Linked DNA regions of Homo sapiens. The protein of the gene in region 1 interacts with the protein of each later gene in a biochemical or structural test. Each region holds a gene or a part of one and is shown in the gene's direction. Other genes may lie near its edges.

The links.
Region 2: the proteins of VPS41 (region 1) and PLEKHM1 form a complex in vitro, tested with the Homo sapiens proteins (one study listed by BioGRID).
Region 3: the proteins of VPS41 (region 1) and MON1B form a complex in vitro, tested with the Homo sapiens proteins (one study listed by BioGRID).

Annotation. Positions count from the first base shown.
Region 1 is NC_000007.14:38,737,918-38,745,351, reverse strand, and holds part of VPS41 (vacuolar protein sorting-associated protein 41 homolog), read left to right. Parts: intron 1-1,809; coding exon 1,810-1,950; intron 1,951-3,230; coding exon 3,231-3,367; intron 3,368-7,434. UniProt on the Homo sapiens protein: Plays a role in vesicle-mediated protein trafficking to lysosomal compartments including the endocytic membrane transport and autophagic pathways. Acts as a component of the HOPS endosomal tethering complex.
Region 2 is NC_000017.11:45,452,609-45,460,042, reverse strand, and holds part of PLEKHM1 (pleckstrin homology domain-containing family M member 1), read left to right. Parts: intron 1-1,603; coding exon 1,604-1,874; intron 1,875-5,162; exon of another isoform or gene 5,163-5,212; coding exon of another isoform or gene 5,213-5,228; intron 5,229-5,770; coding exon 5,771-6,688; coding exon of another isoform or gene 6,689-6,753; exon of another isoform or gene 6,754-7,109; intron 7,110-7,434. UniProt on the Homo sapiens protein: Acts as a multivalent adapter protein that regulates Rab7-dependent and HOPS complex-dependent fusion events in the endolysosomal system and couples autophagic and the endocytic trafficking pathways.
Region 3 is NC_000016.10:77,194,097-77,201,530, forward strand, and holds part of MON1B (vacuolar fusion protein MON1 homolog B), read left to right. Parts: intron 1-238; coding exon 239-1,058; intron 1,059-1,438; coding exon 1,439-1,586; intron 1,587-4,011; coding exon 4,012-4,212; 3' UTR 4,213-5,355; coding exon of another isoform or gene 5,356-5,416; 3' UTR 5,417-7,434. Other genes in the region: SYCE1L (synaptonemal complex central element protein 1-like), read left to right, coding at 5,356-5,416.

The DNA of each region.
Region 1 (7,434 bases):
AATGTATAATCAACATATCAAAATTTATCAGTTTATACCTCACAACATAGATTAAGTTGTAGATGAGTTGACAAGTTTTTTCATTTTCTAAAAAATTATAATCAGCTTATATTACCATCATATTGGTAGAAAATAAATAATCACTTTTAGAAATCACACCCTAAATAACTAGAGGAAATGCAATTGAATACCATAGTTTTGGAGAAGGAGGAGAGCTTTTTAATATAATCTAGGTGTCAGTGTTCCTGGTCTTCTGGCTCCTACCTCCACATGAGTCACAATTTTTGTACCATGCATACCAAGAAACAAAACTTGTCATCTTTTCACATTCTTCCAAAATGAGCCACGTGCATGACAACAATGTGGGTTGTACTGAGGATTGCATAATGTAGCATATAACATAACATTCATATTTGGTGTTTCTCCATTGTCACTTCCCTGCTGACCTCAGTAGGGTTTTTCCGCTTTACGCCTTTCCCTTATACAGCACTCACTCTCATTGGCCTCTTTGCCTCTGTTGAAAAATAATCCAAATCCTCTATTCCCTTTTATGTGTATGCAGATTCATGGGTGCTCAGCCACAAACCCAGAACTGTCCAGTTATAGCACCTGCCCTTCTTAGGAGAAGTGCTTTTGGGGCTGCATTTTGTTACTTCAGCATGTTCCTGGGGTTCTAATCACAATTTTAGGTAGCTCATCAATTCACTAATTCCAAACAGTGTTCTCCCCAAGAAATATTTTGGTGGAATAAATTTTTGTCATATTGTCTTAGAAGCAGTAGAGGACTTATTAGGGACATATAGTCTGATTTTATAAAAACTTGATAATCCTGTAAACATTTTTAAATAACTAACCATTTTTAGAGACATAAACTGTGGAAATAATATTTGTAAGAAACACAAAATGCTGTGGAAGGGGTATCAAATGGGATATCATTTCATTCACAAGCCAGCTTTTATCAGTTGATAATGGCCGTGTGCAGGGGGAAGGATTCAAGATCCTTTACTAGTTCCTGCAAGCCCAGAGACAGGGGTAAGGGTGACAACCTACAACCAGGCAGTTGTTGTCCCTCCACTGAGTAAGGCTTTCTTACATGCACTATATTAAAAACTCATGGAAAACTTTAAACTATTAAAATGCCATAGGTCAGTGAGCAAAGTATGTAAAGACAATTAGCCAATAGAAGGCATGGTTGATAAATACTTTCATCTCATGAGGGTTATTGAAAGGCCTTCCCCTGAACGTGGGAGAGAAGAAAATGAGGAAGCCCTCTGATAGTTGAGTTTGCAGTTGGCACAAAGTGTATCAGAAAAGCAGTATGCACAGCTACCTCATGAGGCAGAATGACTTTAGGGCCTTTAAACATTTTAAGTGTATCTGCATGTGAAGGTATTGACCTCCAGAATATATATAAGTCTATCAAAAGTAAGTCAGAGTATGACAGACCTGGCTTCAAATTCACAGTGTACTATTTAGTAGCTGTATGATCTTAGCAAGCTACTAACATTTCTATTTCCTCTTCTATAAAAGAGGAATATTAGTAGAACATGCCTCATAGGGTTGTAGTGATGGTTATATGATGTCATTTATATGAGGCACTTAAATGAGTACTCAGTACAGAGTAAATATCCAGTAAATAGGAGATACTTATTTTGCTATGTTATAGACAGTAAATGTTGGTGTCACATGAGAAAATAGCCTTGTCTTAGCTTTCCACCTATGTAAACAAATTAAGAGATATGCAATTTCTTTAAAAAAATTATTAAAATACCTTAAATGAACTCTTTCTCCCATCTTCACCCCACCAAGGCCGAATGGGTAATAGCCGAAGTGCCCTGAAGATGATTATGGAGGAATTACATGATGTTGATAAAGCAATCGAATTTGCCAAGGAGCAAGATGATGGAGAGCTGTGGGAAGATTTGATTTTATATTCCATTGACAAACCACGTAAGCATAAAAGCCATCTCTGGTTATAACTTTTTTTTCTCTCAGTGTAACCAGTTATGTCTAGATTAAAAACTATTTCAAGATACATTGGGTTAAGAAAATGGTAGCGTACCTACAATAAAAATAGGCCAGGTGTGTTGTAATGATTTCCAATACTCCTCCTGTGCTGGAAAACCTGGAGCCTCATCACTTTGCATTACCTGCATGTGATGAAGAACAGGTGGCTACACAGTTTATTAATTGTGTCCCCATGAGGCATATTTTTACCTGCTGCAAGCAAATTGAATAAATGTCATCTGGGTTGTGTTGGTGTGGTTTTTTTTTGTTTTTAGCTTGTATATGGGAGTGTTTATAGTTTAAGTGTATAGACCTTACCAGTCTTTTTTGGAAACATGTAACTGTTCTGGACATTGATGATATTTGGATGTTTGTGTTGTAGTATTTAGCCTCTTTCCTGCACTATTTTTATCAGTACAACACCCAGAGTTTGTATTTGTTGGTCCTCAGCTTGACTGTTTGCATTGGGTCTCCCATTTTGGAAAGGAAAAAACAAAAGCAGTCACCTAACAGAAACCCAACTCTTTTGAAAATAACTAGCAGTAGTGATTTGAAATTTCCTCTTTCCTTTTTTTTTTTTTTAAGTTTGGTAGGAAGTCTTTGTGTTCATGTAACTACCTTAATCTGAAATTGACTTTAATAACTATCCTCTTGACAATATAAAGAATCTCACTTGTAACTAGCAAGATAAAGTAGTAGTTTAAGGATCTCAAGAGGCAAAGTGATGTGGCAGAACATATCATAAACTTGAGGCTGGCCTGAGTGAATTTGGGCACATTACTTATTAGCCGTGTGACCCTGGAAAAATTAAACACCCCATTTCCCTTGTCTGTAAAATGGGGACACAGCATTCCTACCTTGCACAGTATTTGAGGAAAGTGTATATGATACCTGAGCCATAGTCAGTTGTCAATAAATATTATTTACACCCATTTGATGCTAAAAACTGTATTTTGAAGGCAAGTAATCATTTGTTCAACTGTTTTAAAACAGTTCTTATTTACTTTCTCCTTCATGTCTTAAGGAGCGTTAGTTCTTGGAAGTTTAGAAGATTAATTCTTAAGAGTTTAGAAATTCAAATGGTTTTAACACTTACTTTGAAGGAAATAATTTTTTCTTTGAGTTACTTTTGATCTAAAATTGCATTATATGCAAATTATGTGCAAATAAAATTGCATTATAATGTTGCTTATATGTTCATTGTTTTATGTGGTATTTTGTAGCATTTATTACTGGCTTGTTAAACAACATTGGCACACATGTTGACCCAATTCTACTGATTCACCGTATTAAGGAAGGAATGGAGATCCCCAATTTGAGAGATTCCTTGGTTAAAATTCTGCAAGACTACAATTTGCAAGTAAGTATCCTTTCTTGGACAAATGAGCATCTGAATTAGTTGACTTAGTACTGGATAAATATTTCTAGGGTTTATGTTAGGTATCAGTTAAAAACTTTCGATTTTATGGTTACATTTTATTTAGGCCCAGATATTTAGAAAACTGTTCAAATAGAGTAATTAGAAACATCACCTTTAAAATTGCGTTGTCCAGTAATACCTTAAAGGCCTTAAGAAGGCTATTTGATTCTTTAGCCATCTCCAATTTTCACTTGTTTTTGAGCAGACATTCTTACATTTGTATGGTTAATATAACATGGAATCGAGGCGAGTATGAAAGCAGTTATAGTGGCCATTAGATCGGGCCACCCCAACATTTTTAGGGAGAATAAGTATTGTATCCGTTTGAGGGAATTAACAAAAATGTTTTTCAGTAAGGTAATAATTTTTCTTGAAGCCATTCAGTAGTCTGTTGCCTGAAAGCTGTTAAAATATAGGATTTTATTTAACCTTTTGTCTGTTTTCTAGAATAGTGCAACTTTATTATCCTTGTTAAATCAGAATTTGTCATAAGAACAGTGGAACTCATTATTTTCATATAAATTATTATACTAATTACAAAGCATCTTAATCTTTTCCTTAAAAAGACTCTAGCAATTACTATTTTTCAGGATGCTGGTAACTTCTATAGAACTTGAATTAAAACATTTCCTTAAAAATTCGGACTGTTGTTCTTCCTCTAATTTACTTGAAAATGAGGTTTTATTAATAATGGATGAAATTACTTTCCTAGAAACAATTTTTGCAGGTAAAGCCAAAAGAAAAGGCTATTAGCTGAGGAGCATTATGATGTGAGATCCATTGGGCCAGGATTCACCATGCAGGTTGCAAAGTAGAGGTCTGCCTGCACTCAGGGTGACAGCCTTAGGTAAGAGGCAGGGTGGAAAGGAGAAGATATTGCAGGAACATTGGTGGCATCAAAAACAGATGTAAGAGATGAAAGGGATGGCAGAGCTGCAGGGACAAGAGGTTGTGCCAGAGAGTGTGATGTCATTAATGTTTCTGAAGCGGAGTCATGGTGTATACGTGTTCAAAAAGTGGGATGATGGTAAAGGTCATTTGTGTAGAATTAGTAGAGAAACTGAGGCCACAGCCTTTCTGAGTCATCCTAATGGACATGAAGGCCAGGAGGAAGAAACAAGGTGCTCTAAGCCAGGCTCCAGCTTCTCCACAGGGGACAGTAGTATTAACTGGACAACACGACTTTAAAAGTGAAGAAGTCTAAAGATGGGGGTGGGGGTGTGAGAGATCATGCAGCCTTCACTCCGGAGAGCTTTGTGGGAAATTGGGTTCATGGGAGAGAAATTGGTATTCGTTAAGCCAAAGAAGTAGATTACCTGTTCCGCAAAAAGCTTAACGATATATAGGCATATATTTCCAGTGGGATTTGGAGGTTTGCAGATGACCCAGGAGAAAGGTTATTGGAAGGAGAATGAGAAAGTCAAGAAGGAAATAAAAATATGGGAATGGGTTAATAGGCAAAGAGAGGTGAGGTGAGGAGCTGGCTTTTCATGCCACGCCCTAGGAATCCAGAAAGGTGACGTCCCTGCCTGGGGAAGTCACTAATTTTGAAGGTCAGATTGGGCTTTGGTGAAAGTGTTTTCAGTATCAGAACTTATAAGCCTCTGAGTGTGAGTGAGCTTGATAATGACCTTTACTTCATTGACCCTTACCAACCCCAGGCATGCCAGGATATGCTCTAGGTTTCAAATCCACATTTGATGAGAAGTCATTTAGGTGTCTCTGAACAACCCTCCCCCAAGGGAAGTAGTAAATAATTATCCCTCTGCCTTTCAGCTGTAGTGCAAGAAGCTTGCACTAGGTTAAAAGTTGTGCCTTTCTTTTTCGCCAGCCTCCGCAATGACTGCAAGACCACATAGTGCATCCCTATGACTAGGTCATTCTTCCAGAGAACCAAGCTCATGGGCACCACTGTGATCTCAGTGTTCATTCATTTTTAATAAATAAATTTGCATCATTCTGAGTCAGCTGGTAATAAAAATGAAATTATTATTAGATGCAAAATGAATGCCTAACATAAAAATATCTACTAAAGAAGCTACTAAATATTTTTTCTTAATTAGAGCTTTTCCTTAAGATATGTAAGTATGTAGTTCGGTAATGTGTTAAGGAGGTTCAGAATTATTTAGCTAGTGGGTCCAAAAAGCTGTGGTTGCCTGTGAATCCCCCAACCAAGGGGTGGCTTCTCAGAGGGTGAGGGAGAGATGAACAGGGAAGGCAGCAGAGCCTGTGGAAGCTGCTGCATCTGGAGTCCCCACTGGAGCTCAGGCATCTTGTTGGAGAATGCAGTCAGAAAATGCTCTCCGGGGGCAGGTGGTTCAAAGAATTCCAGGCATTATTTTTCCCTCACAGATAAAGAGTTTAAAATATTTTTCTGCTCTTTTTACATAATGTATTAATGACCGCTTAATGTGTTTCCTTTCTCTAGGCAACCTATTAGGGTTCACTGTAAAAATAAATCTATCCAGAGAGCATTTTGCAATTTCCAGAAGGATTTCACTTGCATGTTTTTATTTTATTCTTTTTTTATTTTGTATTTTATAAAACTATGTTGTTTTTCACATACTCTCACCTAGCAAAGTAAAAAATTAGCAACCCTATTCAATCTGAAAATTTGGGAGAAATTTTGCATGTTCATCAATTTCCAGGAATCTGGAAGTGACTGTGTGTGTGATGGGGCTGGGTGGGACAGTAACCCCAGGGGCTATCAAGAACCATTCAGTAATGTAGGGATCTATGGTCAGATGTTGGGGAAATGTTCTCACAGGGCTTCTCAGCACCTTTTCTTGCTGGTATGCATTGGGAATCTCTAAAGGGAGATTGACAATAGAGTATACAGCATTTAAAACTTGGGCACTGCTTTGGGAGATCATTCATTAGCCAGTTGTTAATTGGAAAAGCGGGTTAGAGAATGTTGTGGGAAAAACTTGAAATGAGTAACTCTTCTGCTTTTAGTTTCACGTTTTCTAAAATGTAACAGCTCTCTTCAACCGAAGGTTAGCATCATTAGGTTTGTTAGATGCCTATGACATGACATAGTTTAAGGAAGTAGTATAATCAACTACATCAGCAGTGTTTAATTTCTTTAACTTTCTATGTTTTTATACCCGGCTACCTTGTTAGTGTAATCACTGCACAAATTTTAAAAGCTTCATGAAGTCAGTAAGATGCAAGTGGCATGTATTGCACTTCATAAGCTTTAAATGTTCCTAGGCCTGATTTCAAGGACAAATAGCACTTATTTTGATATAACTTCCAAAACAATATGGTATCAATTATACTTCAGTTTTTATGTAAACTGACCAGTTTCCAGTTTATGCTACAAATTTCTAATGTTTTTACATTTTCTATTTTTAAAACATTATAAATTTAGCATGTAGTTGTTGAGCGTTTATGTCCATTTTTGTAGTTGGAGGCTTTTTTCCCTTGAGAATTTCAGCATCTTTGTTCTTAAAGACTTCTTTTGACGGTTTTATTTGACAAACATTTAATCTTCACAACACTTCTGTAGGAAATATCATCTTTGTTTTACAGATGAGAAGGTTGTCTCTCAGAAAAGTTAAGTGATTTGCCAGTCTGGGAAGGTGATGAACTGGGTTTGAACACAGATCACAGATCCTCTGACTAAATCTCATGCCTTTTTTAAATCAGTGACTACATTACCTTTTACAGCCACAAGTAATCTCTAAAAAATCTGCTAATTAGAGTGGGGTCTTAGTTTTTTTCATTATGGGTAACACCTCTTGGGAAAAGAAAATAGCAAGCATGTTTAACTTGCTTCTAAAGAGGTGTCATGGTGCAGTGGAAATCTCACCAGGCTAAGCCTCATGAGTCCCTGGTGTGAGTCTAACCCTTAAGGAAAGTTGTAGATGATCCTGAAGAAGTCATTGCACATCCTTGGACCTCTGTTTTCCCCAGAAAAATAAAAGGGAGCAGGGGCTAGATTAAACGTCCATCTTAGATGCTTTAGGGGCTGCAGACATTCTTAAGGCTAACTGGATCTAAGG
Region 2 (7,434 bases), on another chromosome or scaffold:
TATCTTTTCTCCTCCTCTTATAAGGACATCAGTCATACTGGATGAACAGCCCATTCTACTCCAACATGACCTCATCTTAACTAATTACTTCTGCAAAGACTCTATTTCCAAAAAAGGTCACATTCTGAGGTACTGGGGGGTAGGGTTTCAACATGTCCTTTTGTGGGGGGGTCACAATTCAACCCACAACACAACTCAGCAACAAAAAGACAGCCCCATTTTAAGACAGACAATGGATTTCAGTAGATTCCAATGGATTTGGATAGATTTCCCAAGGAGAGAAATTGGAACCCTCGTACATTGCTGGTGGGAATATAAAATGGTGCGGCCACTTTGGAAAACAGCTTGGTAGTTCCTCAAGAAGGGAAACATAGAGTTACACATGACCCAGCAAGTCTACTCCTAAGTATATACCCAAGACAATGAAACATGTCTACACAAAAACTTGTGTATAAGTGATCATAGCAGCACTATTCATAATTGACAAAAAGTAGAAACAACCCAAATGTCCATCAGCCGAGGAGTGGATAAGCCAAATGTGGTGGATCGAGACAATGGAATATTATTTGGCAATAAAAAGGAATGAACACTTAAACATGCTTATATAACATGGATGCACCTGGAAAACCTCCCACTAAGAGAAAGAAGCAGGCACAAAAGGTCACGTGTCGTATGGTTCCATCTATATGAGATGTCCAGAACAGGCAGGTGTGTAGGGACTGAAAGTAGGTAAGTAGGTGCCTAGAGCTGAGAGTGGCCAGGGGAAATGGGGATGACGGCTAATGGGTACGGGGTTTCCTTTTTGGGTGAGGAAAATTTGCTAAACTTAGATGGTGGTGACGATTGCCCAACTCTGACTAAGCCAAAATGTTTGAATTGGACACTTTATTTATTTATTTTTTTAGAGATGGGGTCTCATTCTGTTGCCTAGGCTGCAACCAGGCTGGAGGGCAGTGGCGTGATCACGGCTCACTGCAGCCTTGACCTCCCTGGCTCAAGCGATTCTCCCGCTTCAGCCTCCTCAGTAGCTGAGACTACAGGTGTGTGCCATCACACCCAGCTAGTTATTTTTTGTAGAGATGGGTTCTCACTGTGTTGCCCAGGTTGGTCTCAAACTCCTGGGCTCAGGTGATCCTCTCACCTCAGCCTCCCAAAGTGCTGGGATTACAGGTGTGAGCCACCATGGCTGGCCGAATTACATACTTTAAGTGGGTTAATTTTATGATATAAGAGCCATATCTAGATAAAGACTTAAAAAAAAAAAAAACTTCAGGCTGGGCACAGTGACTCACACCTGTAATCCCAACACTTTGGGAGGCCGAGGTGGGTGGCTCACCTGAAGTCAGGAGTTCTAGACCAGCCTGGCCAACATGGTGAAACCCCGCCTCTACTAAAAATACAAAAATTAGCTGGGCATGGTGGTGGGCGCCTGTAATCCCAGCTACTCAGGAGACTGGGGCAGGAGAATCGCTTGAACCCAGGAGTCAGAGGTTGCAGTGAGCCGAGGTTGCGCGATTGCACTCCAGCCTGGGCAACAGAGCGAGACTCCGTCTCAAAACAAAAAAACTTTAAAACAAACAACTGTTGTCTTCTTTCCCAACAGAAAAACAAGAGCTGGATCTCAGAGGATGACTTCTACCGGCCTTCCCGGGAGCAACCCCTGGAGAGTGCTTCAGACCACCCAATAGCTTCTTACAGGGGGACTCCAGGGTCAAGGCCTGGTCTCCACAGGCATTTTTCTCAAGAACCAAGAAAAAACTGCTCCCTGGGGGCGTTAGACCAAGCGTGTGTACCTTCCCCAGGAAGAAGGCAAGCCCAGGCAGCCCCATCCCAGGGGCATAAGAGCTTCCGGGTGGTACACCGGAGACAGATGGGTAGGTTACCAGGAGGGTCCCGGGTGGGTCCCATCTGCAGGGACCAGGCCTTTCAGAAGGCAGCTGTGAAGTTCTGTTTTCCATTGCTAAAGGGGTAGTGTGTTCCCACAAGTGTTATAAAACCTCATTCCAGAATGCCATCATAATCATGTTCATTCAGGGAAGCATTTCAGGAAAAGTAGTATATTGTCTCAAAACTGCCTACAGAGGACAAAAATACTGTTTCACCAGTCAAATAGGAAAATATTTTCCCTGAAAACTATGCAATTTATGATTATAGAAAACTCTTGATTCCACCTGTAGCTCAGAGCACATCCGGCCCCATGAAGCCCCAGGTGTTTTAAATGGTCCTTCCAAACGTGTTTACCCTCAGTAGTTGGTTTATGTAACAGCTCTGGGTGGCTTGATCAAATCTGCTATTTGTTTTGTTTGTTTGTTTGTTTTGAGATGGAGTCTCCCTTTGTTGCCCAGGCTGGAGTGCAGTGGCATGATCTCTGCTCACTGCAACCTCAGCCTCCTGGGTTCAAGCAATTCTCCTGTCTCAGCCTCCCAAATAGCTGGGATTACAGGTACCTGCCACCACACCTGGCTAATTTTTTTTTTTTTTTGAGGTGGAGTTTCCCTTTTGTTGCCCAGGCTGGAGTGCAATCATGTGATCTCAGCTCACCACAACCTCCGCCTCCCGTGTTCAAGCAATTCTTCTGCTTTAGCCACCCGAGTAGTTGGGATTACAGGCATGAGCCACCATGCCTGGCTCATTTTGTATTAGTAGAGACGGGGTTTCTCGAAATTGGTTAGGCTGGTCTCCAACTCCCGACCTCCGGTGATCCACCCCGCCTCGGCCTCCTAAAGTGCTGGGATTACAGGCATGAGCCACTGCGCCTGGCCAATTTTTGCATTTTTAATAAAGATGGTGTTTTGCTATGTTGGCCAGGCTGGAGGATCTGCTATTTGTTTAATGTCCTCCAGTGCTTCTTTTTTTTTTTTTTTTTTTTTCTGAGGCAGAGTCTTGCTCTGTCACCCAGGCTGGAGTACAGTGGTATAATCTCAGCTCACTGCAGCCTTTGCCTCCCAGCTCAAGTGCCTCAGTCTCTCCAGGAGCTGGGATTACAGACATGCACTGCCACACCCAGGTGATTCTTGTATTTCCAGTGGACATAGGATTTTGCCATGTTGGCCACACTGGTCTGAACTCTTGGCCTCATGTGATCCACCCACCTTGGCCTCCAAAAGTGCTGGGATTACAGGTGTGAGCCACTATGCCCGACCTCCCCAGTGCTTTTTACAGCAAGGTCAGCTTGATCTCCACACACTGAAATTCCAGAAAGCCTTAAATAACCATAACCAAATTTTTCAGTAACCTTCATGATGGGTTTCCTCTTCAAAACAAACAAAAAAAGTACGCTCTAGAATTGGTCTCTTTCTCTCCTCATTTTCTGTCTGCAGTGACCCAGCAGAGAATCCTGCCCAGCTCAGGGGGCCTTGCTGTGGGTAGCCCTGGCATGGGTTGTGTGGGTAGAGCCCGGTCTCCGGGCTGGCTTCTGTTAGGTTTGTCTGTTGGCCCGTGTGATGGCTGTGGTCTCTAACCTGCCAGCGAAGCTGTGCTTCAGGTCTAGGCCATCAGGTTTCTTGAGGGGCAGGGAACCCCCATAGAATAGTGTGAAATCTCCAAGGCTATTCCAGGCTGGCGGAGAGAGAATTGTGTGTCCTTTGGACACCCTGGTTGTTGTCACACCCCAGGCAGCAGGGAGCTGTGGGCAACATGTGATACATAGGCACTCACCTGCTCATTCATTCAGCAAATATTATTGAGGCTCTGTGATGTGCCAGGCACTGTTCTAAGTGCTGGAGACATAGCAGGCAGCAAAGCAGTGTCCCTGTCTTCATGGGATTTAGATTCTAGTAGAGGAGACGGGAAATAAAATTAACAAGTAAGCATAGTGTGTGGTCAGGTGGTCATAAGTGCTATGGAGGACAGTAAATCTCTACCTGTCTACAGAGGTAGAGAGTGGACCACTGCATATAGGATGGCCAGAAAAGCCCTCACCAATAAGGGGATGTTTGAGGAGATGCAAGGGGAGAGAGGGAAGGAGTCATGAGGCAATGTACGTGTTTCAAGCAAGGAGAACAAATGCAAAGACCCTGCGCTGGGGCTGCGCTTGACACATCCAGGGACAGTGGAGACCAGAGTGGCAGGAGAGAGGAGATGGGGGCGTGGCAGTGAGCGATGAGGTCAATCTGACGAGGCCTGTGGGCCACTGGAAGCACTTTGGCTTCAGCTAAGGGAGATGGCCGCCACTGTGGAGTTTTGGGGCAGAGGGACATGCTCTGACTTCCCTTTAAATGGGTCATCATGGCTCCTACGCTGAGGGACTACAGGGGAGAAGGGGAGAAAGACCAGTTAGGAGGTTGTCATCACAAGCCAGGCCAGAGATGACAGTGGGTGGGGTGCAGCTGGGGAGAGGCGGGGATTCCGGATGTGTGGAAGGCAGAGCCAATGGGATTTGCTGATGTAGGCTGCGAAAGAAAGAAAACCTGGGGTAACACCAAGATTTTTAGCCCAGGCATCTGGAAGGATGAATTTTGCTATTTGGTGAGATGAGGACCATTCAGGAGGAAGCAGGCTGGCAGCAGGAATTCATCCTGGACATGTCAGCTGAGATCCTAGTGGACATGTATGGCACAGGTGGATATATGAATGTGGATTTCAAGAACAAGGTCCAGGCTGGCGATAAAAATTGGGAGCTAAAGCCTGAGAGCAGGTAGAGTGGTGAGAAAGTGGCATCTACAGAGAGGAGACAAGGACCCAGGACTGACATCTGGGCACTCTAACGTGAGAGGCCACAGGGAGGACCGAGCCAGAGAGATAGAAGGGTGGGGGCGAGGGCTGAGGAGTGGCCTTGGGGTTTGGCAACGAGGAGGGCATTGACCATCTCAGAAACAGTGTCAGTAGAATGGGGGGAGAGAAGCCTACTTGGAGCAGGTTCGAGAAGGAATGGGAGCAGGGAAACTAGAGACCAAGAGGTTTTTTGTTTTGTTGAGACGGAGTCTCACTCCTCTGTCACCCAGGCTGAAGTGCAGTGGAGTGACCTCAGCTCACTGCAATCCCCTGCCTTCCCGGTTCAAGCCATTCTCCTGCCTCAGCCTCCCTAGTAGCTGGGATTACAGGTGCTCACCACACCTGGCTAATTTTTGTATTTTTAGTAGAGACGGGGTTTCACCGTGTTCACCAAGCTGGTCTCAAACTCCTGACCTCAAGTGATCCACCCACCTCAGCCTCCCGAAGTGCTGGGATTACAGGCATGAGCCACCGCTTCCGGCCAAGATGAACAGTTTTGATGCCTCTTCAAACAGGTTTTCTGTAAAGGGGCCTGAGAAATATGGTGGTCATTAGGGAAGTGCATGGAGACGAGAGGTGTTTCTAAAGATGGGAGAAATGACAGCGTGCATGTGTGCCGATGGGAGTCACCCCATAGAGAAGGAAGAAAGCAGTGACAGAGGAGAGGACTGCTCCTTGTCCTTGAGTAGTTGGCCAAGGGAGAGACCTCCTGCACAAATGGAGGGTTTGGCCTCACGCAGAAAGAAGCACACTTGGTTCATCCCTGGCAGCAGGAGGGAAGGCGTGGGTGTAGGGAACAGGGCGTGTGGAGGGGATCTTTTGGGTGCTCTTATTTTCTCAGTGAAATACAGGACGCAAGAGCAGCAGTGGACGGTGAGAATGGGGATGTTCCCATCCAGCTTTCAGGGTCCCATGTGATAGTGCCCCGTGGCTGGCCTGTGTTCTGGGGACAGTCACTGGCCACATGCACTGCAGGGCATCAGGCAGCAGAGGCTGCCTTGGGCAGGACAGAGACAGGCCCGCCAACTAATGTGCCCCTTTTTGCCTCTGCCTCCAGGACTGTCCAACCCATTCCGGGGTCTCATGAAGCTGGGCACCGTGGAGCGGCGGGGGGCAATGGGCATCTGGAAGGAGCTCTTCTGCGAGCTCTCCCCGCTGGAGTTCCGCCTCTACCTGAGCAACGAGGAGCACACCTGTGTGGAGAACTGCTCGCTGCTTCGCTGTGAGTCTGTGGGGCCAGCCCATAGTGATGGGCGCTTTGAGCTGGTCTTCTCTGGCAAGAAGCTGGCCCTGCGCGCCTCCTCCCAGGACGAAGCTGAGGACTGGCTGGACCGGGTGCGGGAGGCCCTGCAGAAGGTCCGGCCTCAGCAGGAGGATGAGTGGGTGAACGTGCAGTACCCAGACCAGCCTGAGGAACCCCCCGAGGCGCCCCAGGGCTGCCTCTCTCCCTCAGACCTGCTCTCGGAGCCCGCGGCCCTCCAGGGCACACAGTTTGACTGGTCGTCCGCCCAGGTTCCAGAGCCAGATGCCATCAAGGAGTCCCTGCTGTACTTGTACATGGACAGGACCTGGATGCCCTATATATTTTCTCTGTCCTTGGAGGCTCTGAAATGTTTCCGCATCAGGAACAATGAGAAGATGCTGAGTGACAGCCACGGCGTGGAGACCATCCGGGACATCCTGCCAGACACCAGCCTTGGGGGCCCATCCTTCTTCAAAATCATCACGGCCAAGGCTGTCCTGAAGCTGCAGGCCGGAAACGCCGAGGAAGCCGCCCTGTGGAGGGATCTGGTCCGCAAAGTCCTGGCATCCTACTTGGAGACAGCCGAGGAGGCGGTGACCCTGGGCGGGAGCCTGGATGAAAACTGTCAGGAGGTGCTGAAATTTGCCACCCGGGAGAATGGCTTCCTGCTGCAGTACCTGGTGGCTATCCCCATGGAGAAAGGCCTTGACTCCCAAGGCTGCTTCTGCGCAGGTGCCGATTTGCTCTGCTGCCACCCCCAGCCTGCCAGCCTCACTCCACCTCCTGCTGGTTCCTGATTTAGGCTCCCCACCCTTCTGCCTCCCCGCAAATGCCCCCATCCTTCCCCTAGGGATGAGGCCACAGATCAGGCTTGCCCTACAGCTTCTGCTCCTCCCCAGCCCCGGCTGGGGCCAGTGCCCTGCTCATAGGCAGTGGGCCCTGCTCACCCGTCCCTCTCCTGCCACCTCCCACTGATGGGCGGCAGGCTGGCTACTCACTGCGCTGCTCAGGGAGTCCCAGCCTGCTTCATTTTCTTCTTGCTCTACCGTCCTGTTCTTTCAGAGCAGGGGCATGGTTTCCTTCCAAATATTTCTGCTGCTTTTATAAGTGTACACCCTTTTTTTTAATTATAAAAATGGGCTCGTGCTATTCAGTGCTGTCCAATAGAACTTTCTGTGATGATGAAAATGTCCTAGATCTGTGTGTCCAGTGCCATAGCTGCGAGCCATGTAGTGCTACCAGGTGCTTAAAGTGTGGCTAGTGTGGTTAAGCAACTGAATTTTCTATTTAAATTCATTTGCATTTAAAGGGGACACACGGGGCTCTTGGCTGCTGTGTTGAATGCTGGATATATTGTTCCACAACTTGGTTTTTTCCTACACTGTGGATGTTATTCCAAGTCAGTACATCTGCTATGTCTTCCTCATCATCAAATCTAATACTTCTGTGCTGGGCACTGGGCCAGCTGCTTTATTTGG
Region 3 (7,434 bases), on another chromosome or scaffold:
CTGCCCGTGGTCTTTGCTGTGTATCTAACCTACTTGTTCCTTTGTCCATCCCATCATGTCTCTGCAAATGTCCAGATTCCTCCAGCTTGTCCTTACCCCAGTCCAGGTGCCCACAGAGTGAGCATGTGGACTCGGGCCTGGTGTGTGTATGGTAGGAGAGGGCAGAAGAGCCCCACTGTCTCCCTCTGGTCATTCCTGATCCAGCTGTACCCCCCCTTCTTACCCCTTCCTTCCCTAGAGGACCACAAGCTGGTGTTCCTACAACAGGGCCCACTGTTGCTCGTGGCCATGTCACGGACTTCTCAGTCAGCAGCCCAGCTGCGGGGGGAGCTGCTAGCTGTGCACGCACAGATCGTGAGCACACTTACACGTGCAAGTGTCGCCCGCATCTTCGCACACAAGCAGAACTATGACCTCCGCCGCCTGCTGGCTGGTTCAGAGCGCACACTGGACCGACTTCTGGACAGTATGGAGCAGGACCCAGGAGCCCTGCTCCTGGGTGCCGTGCGCTGTGTGCCCCTTGCCCGCCCGCTGCGAGACGCACTAGGTGCGCTCCTCCGACGTTGCACAGCGCCTGGCCTGGCGCTGTCAGTGCTGGCAGTAGGCGGTCGACTTATAACAGCAGCCCAGGAGCGAAATGTGCTGGCCGAGTGCCGGCTGGACCCAGCTGACCTGCAGTTGCTGCTCGACTGGGTGGGTGCACCAGCCTTTGCGGCGGGTGAGGCTTGGGCACCTGTGTGCCTGCCCCGCTTCAACCCTGATGGTTTTTTCTACGCCTACGTGGCCCGCCTGGATGCTATGCCTGTCTGCCTGCTGCTGCTTGGCACCCAACGTGAAGCCTTCCATGCCATGGCCGCCTGCCGGCGCCTGGTTGAAGATGGGATGCATGCCCTTGGTGCCATGCGTGCCCTTGGGGAGGCTGCCAGCTTCTCTAATGCCTCATCAGCCAGTGCTCCTGCCTACAGCGTGCAGGCTGTCGGGGCGCCGGGCCTCCGGCACTTCCTGTATAAGCCGCTGGACATCCCTGACCACCACCGCCAACTGCCCCAGTTTACCAGGTAGGCCCTGACCCTAAGGCAACTGGCTGGGTGGGAAGGCCTGTCAAACCAGGAAGTTCAGCATCTCAGGGATGTGACTCAGGAGAGATAACCAGCCATGCTTAAGAAAGAGGGAAGAGAACAAGTCTCTGTCTGATGATGGAGCATCAGCCACAGACCTAAAGGAATCCCCCTCTTCTGGTGGACAGCAGGGCCCTAGTACTCAGGGAATCTCCTAGTTTGATGAGGGAAGGTCAGCCTCCAACCCCTGAGAATCCTCAAGTCTCATGGGAGAGGCTCAGCTCCCTAACTTCATTGAAATCTCTAGACTGAGGGAGGAAATGGGCCAGCCAAGAAGGCCCTGGACTAACCTTGTCCTCCACCTCCCTCCATCATGGCAGCCCTGAGCTAGAGGCCCCCTACAGCAGAGAGGAGGAGCGGCAGCGGCTGTCGGACCTGTACCACCGCCTGCATGCTCGTCTCCACAGCACCTCCCGACCCCTGCGCCTCATTTACCACGTGGCTGAGAAGGAGACACTACTGGCCTGGGTAAGTTGGGCAGGGCTCTGAGTGAATTAATTCCCCACTTCAAGCCTCCTTTCCCTATATTGTATCCCCTCCAGCCACAGTGCCTCCACCAAACACAGCAGGCCTCTGGCTGGGCTGTGCCTTGCCTGCAACACTGTCCCTGCCTTTACACACACATCTTTGAAGCCCCTGACAACTAATGACCGTGTCTCTAATCCGACATTAGCCTCACCCTCCTGTGTGCTTCTCCCAGATTAGCAACCAGGACAGTGTCTTTGACTTTCCAGAGGCCCCATTAACTACCACTGCTGTGCCTGCCGATTCCCCAGTAGCCCAATCCATGTGTTTGGAGGCACCCCATTCATCACCAGCTCATTGTGACTCCATGAGTCCCCAGCACTCCTCAGACTACAGGCGTGGTCCCTTGCTGTGCCCTCCACCTGGGGTATCCTTCCCTTTGGTCTCCTCTGGGCTCCAGCCCTCACTTCCTATGGGTTTGCTAAAGGTCAGCTACTAAGGGAGGCCAGTGAAGGAGGCCTCATCAGAAATGGCACCTGCCATGTAATGCATATTTATTAATTTATTGCGTGACTGCTGTGGATCAGGTATTGTCCTAGGCTAAGAATTTTGTTTTTAAATTTTTTTAACTTTCATTTTCAAATAACTTTAGACTTAGAAGCTGCAAAAACAATATAAAGAGTTTTTATATTTATATTTATAAAGAGTTATAAAGGGCGTGGTGAAAACCACGCCTGGTCAGATGGTGGTTTTCCTAACTCCATCATTCTTTCTACATTTATTGGCTGGGATTTTACTATAAAGAGTAACATGGGGCCGGACGTGATGGCTCACGCCTGTAATCCCAGCACTTTGGGAGGCTGAGGCAGGCTGATCACTTGAGGTCAGGAGTTCGAGACCAGCCTGGCAAACATGGCAAAACCCCGTCTCTACTAAAAATACAAAAATTAGCTGGGCGTGGTGGTGCGCACCTGTAGTCCCAGCTATTCATAAGGCTGAGGCAGGAGAATCGCTTGAACCTGGGAGGTGGAGGTTGCCGTGAGCCAAGATCGCGCCACTGCACTCCAGCCTGGGCGACAGAGTAAGACTCCATTTCAAAAACAAAAAGGAATAACTTTTCCTTCTCCTATTTATTGAATTTTTAATTTTCTATCAATATTGTCTCATGGATTTTTCTTTAATTCAGTGAGCTAAAATCCTTCTCTAGCATTTATTTTGGTGTTCAGATTGCCTCTGATTTAGCCGGTGGGTACCCTGATTTAGCCAGGCTGATCCCTGTGTCTCTGACACGTCCCCTTCACTATGTGAGCACATCTTACTTGACTTTCTCTATTCCAGTCCTCAACTCAGCCATTTTTCCATGGAGCCCTTATACCTTTTAGTAGAGATTGGAATTTTAAAACCAAGATATGGGCCAGACACGGTGCCTCACGCCTATAATCCCAGCACTTTGGGAGGCTGAGTCGGGGTGGGAGTTGGGGGGAGTGGGCGGCGAGTCACAAGGTCAGGAGTTCGAGACCAGCCTGGCCAACAGGGTGGAACCCCATCTCTACTAAAAATACAAAAAATTAGCTGGATGTGGTGGCATGCGCTTGTATCCCAGCTACTCGGGAGGCTGAGGCAGGAGAATCGCTTGAACCTGGCAGGCGGAGGTTGCAGTGAGCCGAGACCGTGCCACTGCACTCCAGCCTGGGTAACAGAGTAAGACTCTACGTCAAAAACAAAAAAACAAAAACAAACAAAATATATGTTAGGAGCAGAATTTTAAACCAAGTGATCAGGGTGGCCTCCCTGAGCAGATGGCATCTGAGTGGAGTAGGGAGGTATTGAGCTACGTGGATATTAGGAGGAAGAGTACACCTGGCAGAGGGAAAGGACTGATATGCTATGAGGTGGAACCAAGCCTGGCTATGTTTGAGGAATAGCAAGGAAAGGGTAGAGTGGCCGGAGCAGAGGGAGTGAAGGGGAGCGCTCTGGGAGGTGGCACAGGAAAGGCGCTAGTGACCTTGTGGGGTCAGGCCTCTCCATGTGGTATGAGGCATAAATTGAGTTCCTCTTTATATTATTCCCTGGCTGTAGATGATGAAAACATAGTTGTAGGAGCTTAGAGCAGGACCTTGTACACAATAGGTTACTGACAGAATATTAAACATTGTTACTGTTTTCCCCAGTTCCCAATGAGCAAACAGGTCTAGAGAGTACCCACACACACAACCAGCATCATCCAGTTGAAGTCACTAGGTCCAGCTGAAATTGCACAATATCAGCTTACCTACCTTAGCCCAGTATCTAGGCAGCACCTGGTAGGAGGTGCTGCCAGGTACATGTTCCAGGTTGCAGGAGGCAGACATGCAGCTGCACTGGGGTAGGCAGGATTGTCCATAGCCAGCTCTGGCCCATCTGACTCTGTCTCCTCCGAAACCCCCAGGTGACCTCCAAATTCGAGCTCTATACCTGCCTCAGCCCTCTGGTGACCAAGGCAGGTGCAATCTTGGTAGTGACCAAACTCCTGCGCTGGGTGAAGAAAGAGGAGGACCGGCTCTTCATTCGTTACCCACCCAAGTACTCCACACCACCAGCCACCTCTACGGACCAAGCTGCCCATAATGGCTTGTTCACTGGACTCTGATAGTTGGAGCTCCCAGACCAGGCAGTGCTGGGAGCAACCACCTTTGTTTTTTACCTTCTGTCTACCCTGGAAATGTGTGTGGGGGTGTGTCTGTGGCCAGTCATTGTCTCCCTAAGCAATGGGGCAAGGTCTGAGGGCCCACCGATGAGAGAGATGGTGGCAGCCGCCAGGCGAGCAGGCTGCTTTCCCTGCCCAGTCATGCACCTCCCCCTCTGGGGAAATCCTTAGGCCTCCCTCTCCCTTCCCTCTGTCTCATCTCCTCCACTTGGATGATGCTCTAGCCTCTGTCAGGGACTGTCCCCTCCAAACTTGCTTCCGTGGTCTGCCTCCTAGTTGAATCTCAGCCCTGAGTGTCCAGATCTGGCCAAGGTGTCTAGGGTGGCCCACGGGGGTGCTGGAATTGGCACTTCAGGGCCAGGCTATGCTTGGGACTGGCCTGAGGGTATTTTAAAGAAAAAAACTACATAAAAGGCCTAAAAGTAAGACCCACAAGGATATTCCTTTGCCCTTCTTGTACTTTTTTCATCTTTACCCTGCCAGAAATGACCCGCCCTCAATGCTGGCTGCTGCTAACATTAATGAGAAGGTGGCCTTCAGTGTCCACCTGTGGAACCCAGGACACAGCACCTGACTGCACACAGTGGCTGAAATCCAGCATTTTTACATAGGAGATGCACTTAGCCTCTAAGCCTCGTTTTACTCATCTGTGAAACAGAGATAAGTAACCCTCTCTCATGAACTCTTTGATGAGGATTTGTAAACGAAAACAGACTCGAACTATTGTGTACCACCACATAGCACATGCACGTCTGTCCCAGACTTTGACAACCTGCACAAGACAAGCAGCCTAAAGCAGGAGAGACCTCCCTAGGGTTTTGTGTGTGTGCACACTACCCTCACTCCCCAACTGGCCATTACCCTAGTTCTGCCCTTGTTTGTGGAGTTACAGCCTCAAGGTTGTAGCATGTGTGCTGGCAATCAGGGCCGCAGTGTGTTCTGCGCCTGCCCAGAGCTGACTCCTGATTTAACCGCTGGCGTAACCGCGGGTTGCACGCATGCGTGCTGAAAAGCCTTTCACCCTCACGTGGTTTCTTTTTTAACCAGTCATCAAGCGAGGCTCGCGCGCAGGCCCCGCGTTGGAAAATGGCGGGGAAGCTGAAACCTCTGAATGTGGAGGCGCCAGAAGCTACTGAGGAGGCTGAAGGTAGTGAGGGCAAGTGGGCTGCACTCCTTTCTCTCCAACCAGGGCAGAAAGGAGGGAGGATTCGTCCCATTACAATAATGAAATAATGATATTCTAATTTTTTTAAATAAAATGTTAAGCCTTTTGTTATTGAAGAAAAACAATTTTTTAACCGTTCAGCACAGTGGAGATAAATTAACAGGCATATTCTTATCACCGAGATTAACTTTTGTCAACTGTAGTGTATACGTTGTTGAAAGTAAACAACATGTAGTTCAGTACGAAAGTCTTCAAACAAAAGTGGGGCGGTGGGGATGTTCTCATAACAATCACCGTGCTGCAGCCACCCCTTATTAACAGTAATTCCCAGTGTCGCCATTTCACACCTAACACATATGACACTTTGATGGACTCTTAAACCTCCTAATCGAACATGGCCTCCCCCACAGCCTCTTTTCTCCAGGGTATTGACTTGAATGACAGGCAAAGGAGGGTGGAGGGGTGTCGGCCTAGACACTATTGGAAATTGTATTCCATCCAAAAGAAAAAAAAATCTCAGGCCGGGCACGGAGGCTCACGCCTGTAATCCCAGCACTTTGGGAGGCCGAGGCGGGCGGATCACGAGGTTAGGAGTTCGAGGCCAGCCTGACCAACATGGTGAAACACCATCTCTACTAAAAAACTATATATACATATACATATGTGTGTATGTGTATTTATATGTATGTATGTATGTGTGTGTATATATATATATATGTATATGTGTATATATATATATATGTGTATATATATATATATATACACACACTAATCAGCCGGGCGCGGTGGTGTGGGCCTGTAATCGCAGCTACTCAGGAAGCTGAGGCAGGAGAATCACTTGAACCCGAGAGGCGGAGGTTGCAGTGAGCCGAGATCATGTCACTGCACTCCAGCCTGGGTGACAGAGTGAGACTCCGTCTCAAAAGAAAAAAAATTCTCCCTTGGCCGGGCTTGGTGGCTTATGCCTGTAATCCCAGCACTTTGGAAGGCCGAGGCGGGTGGGTCACCTGAGGTCAGGAGTTTGAGACCAGCCTGGCCAGCATGGCGAAACCTCGTCTCTACTAAAAATACAAAAATTGTCCGGGTGTGGTGGCGGGCGCCTGTAGTCCCAGCTACTGGGGAGGCTGAGGCAGGGGAATTGCTTGAACCCGGGAGGCAGAGGTTATCGTGAGCTGACATTGCGCCACTGCACTCCAGCGCGGAAGACAGAGTGAGCAAAAAAAAAAAAAAAAAAAGAAAAAACAAAAAGAAAAAAATCTCCCAAGGCAGTCATGCATTTGTATGCCACTAGCATTTTTTTGTTATAGAAATATTCAAAGTGTACCAACGTAGAGAAAATAGCTTTAAACAAAGCCCATGTGTACCTATCAGTATGCTTTAACTGTTGTCACCTTTCTGCCCCACTTTTATCTATCTCGAACACCCCTTTCTGCACACTCTTTAAACCACTGTATTAACAAACACATTAGACTGCATCCTGCCAGACCTACCCATACAGACATCAAAGTAATGATTATTGCTTATTGCCTGACCTAGGATGTGAGCTCCATGAGAACAGAGACTGTTTACCTCTCGCTCCCCTGCACCTAAAACAATGCCTGCTTGGTGTAAAGTAAGTGCTCAGTAATTTTTTAATGTGTGACCAATGAAATAACTTCAAGAGCAGAGAGCTCTTTTAGATTAGAGGCACATACTAAGTGCCAGCATTCAACAAAAGACAGACGGAAATAAGACAGATGCAAATAGATCTCATTTATTAACTGTGTAATGCAGCTGCCACTGCAATTAAAAAAAAAATTTTAGTATCAACCTTTCAAATTCCTCAAAATTAAAGTTATGACTAACTTCACCAGCAAAGGAAAAATTGAAGGATGTATCAAGTTGCCATTTCTAGCCCATCAAATCGGCTTTATAAAGGGAAGCATAGTATCTGGTATTGACGACCTTGTAGAGAAACAGGCCTTTTCCTGCCTCAGGGAAGAGAGCTGACTCAAAGTAAA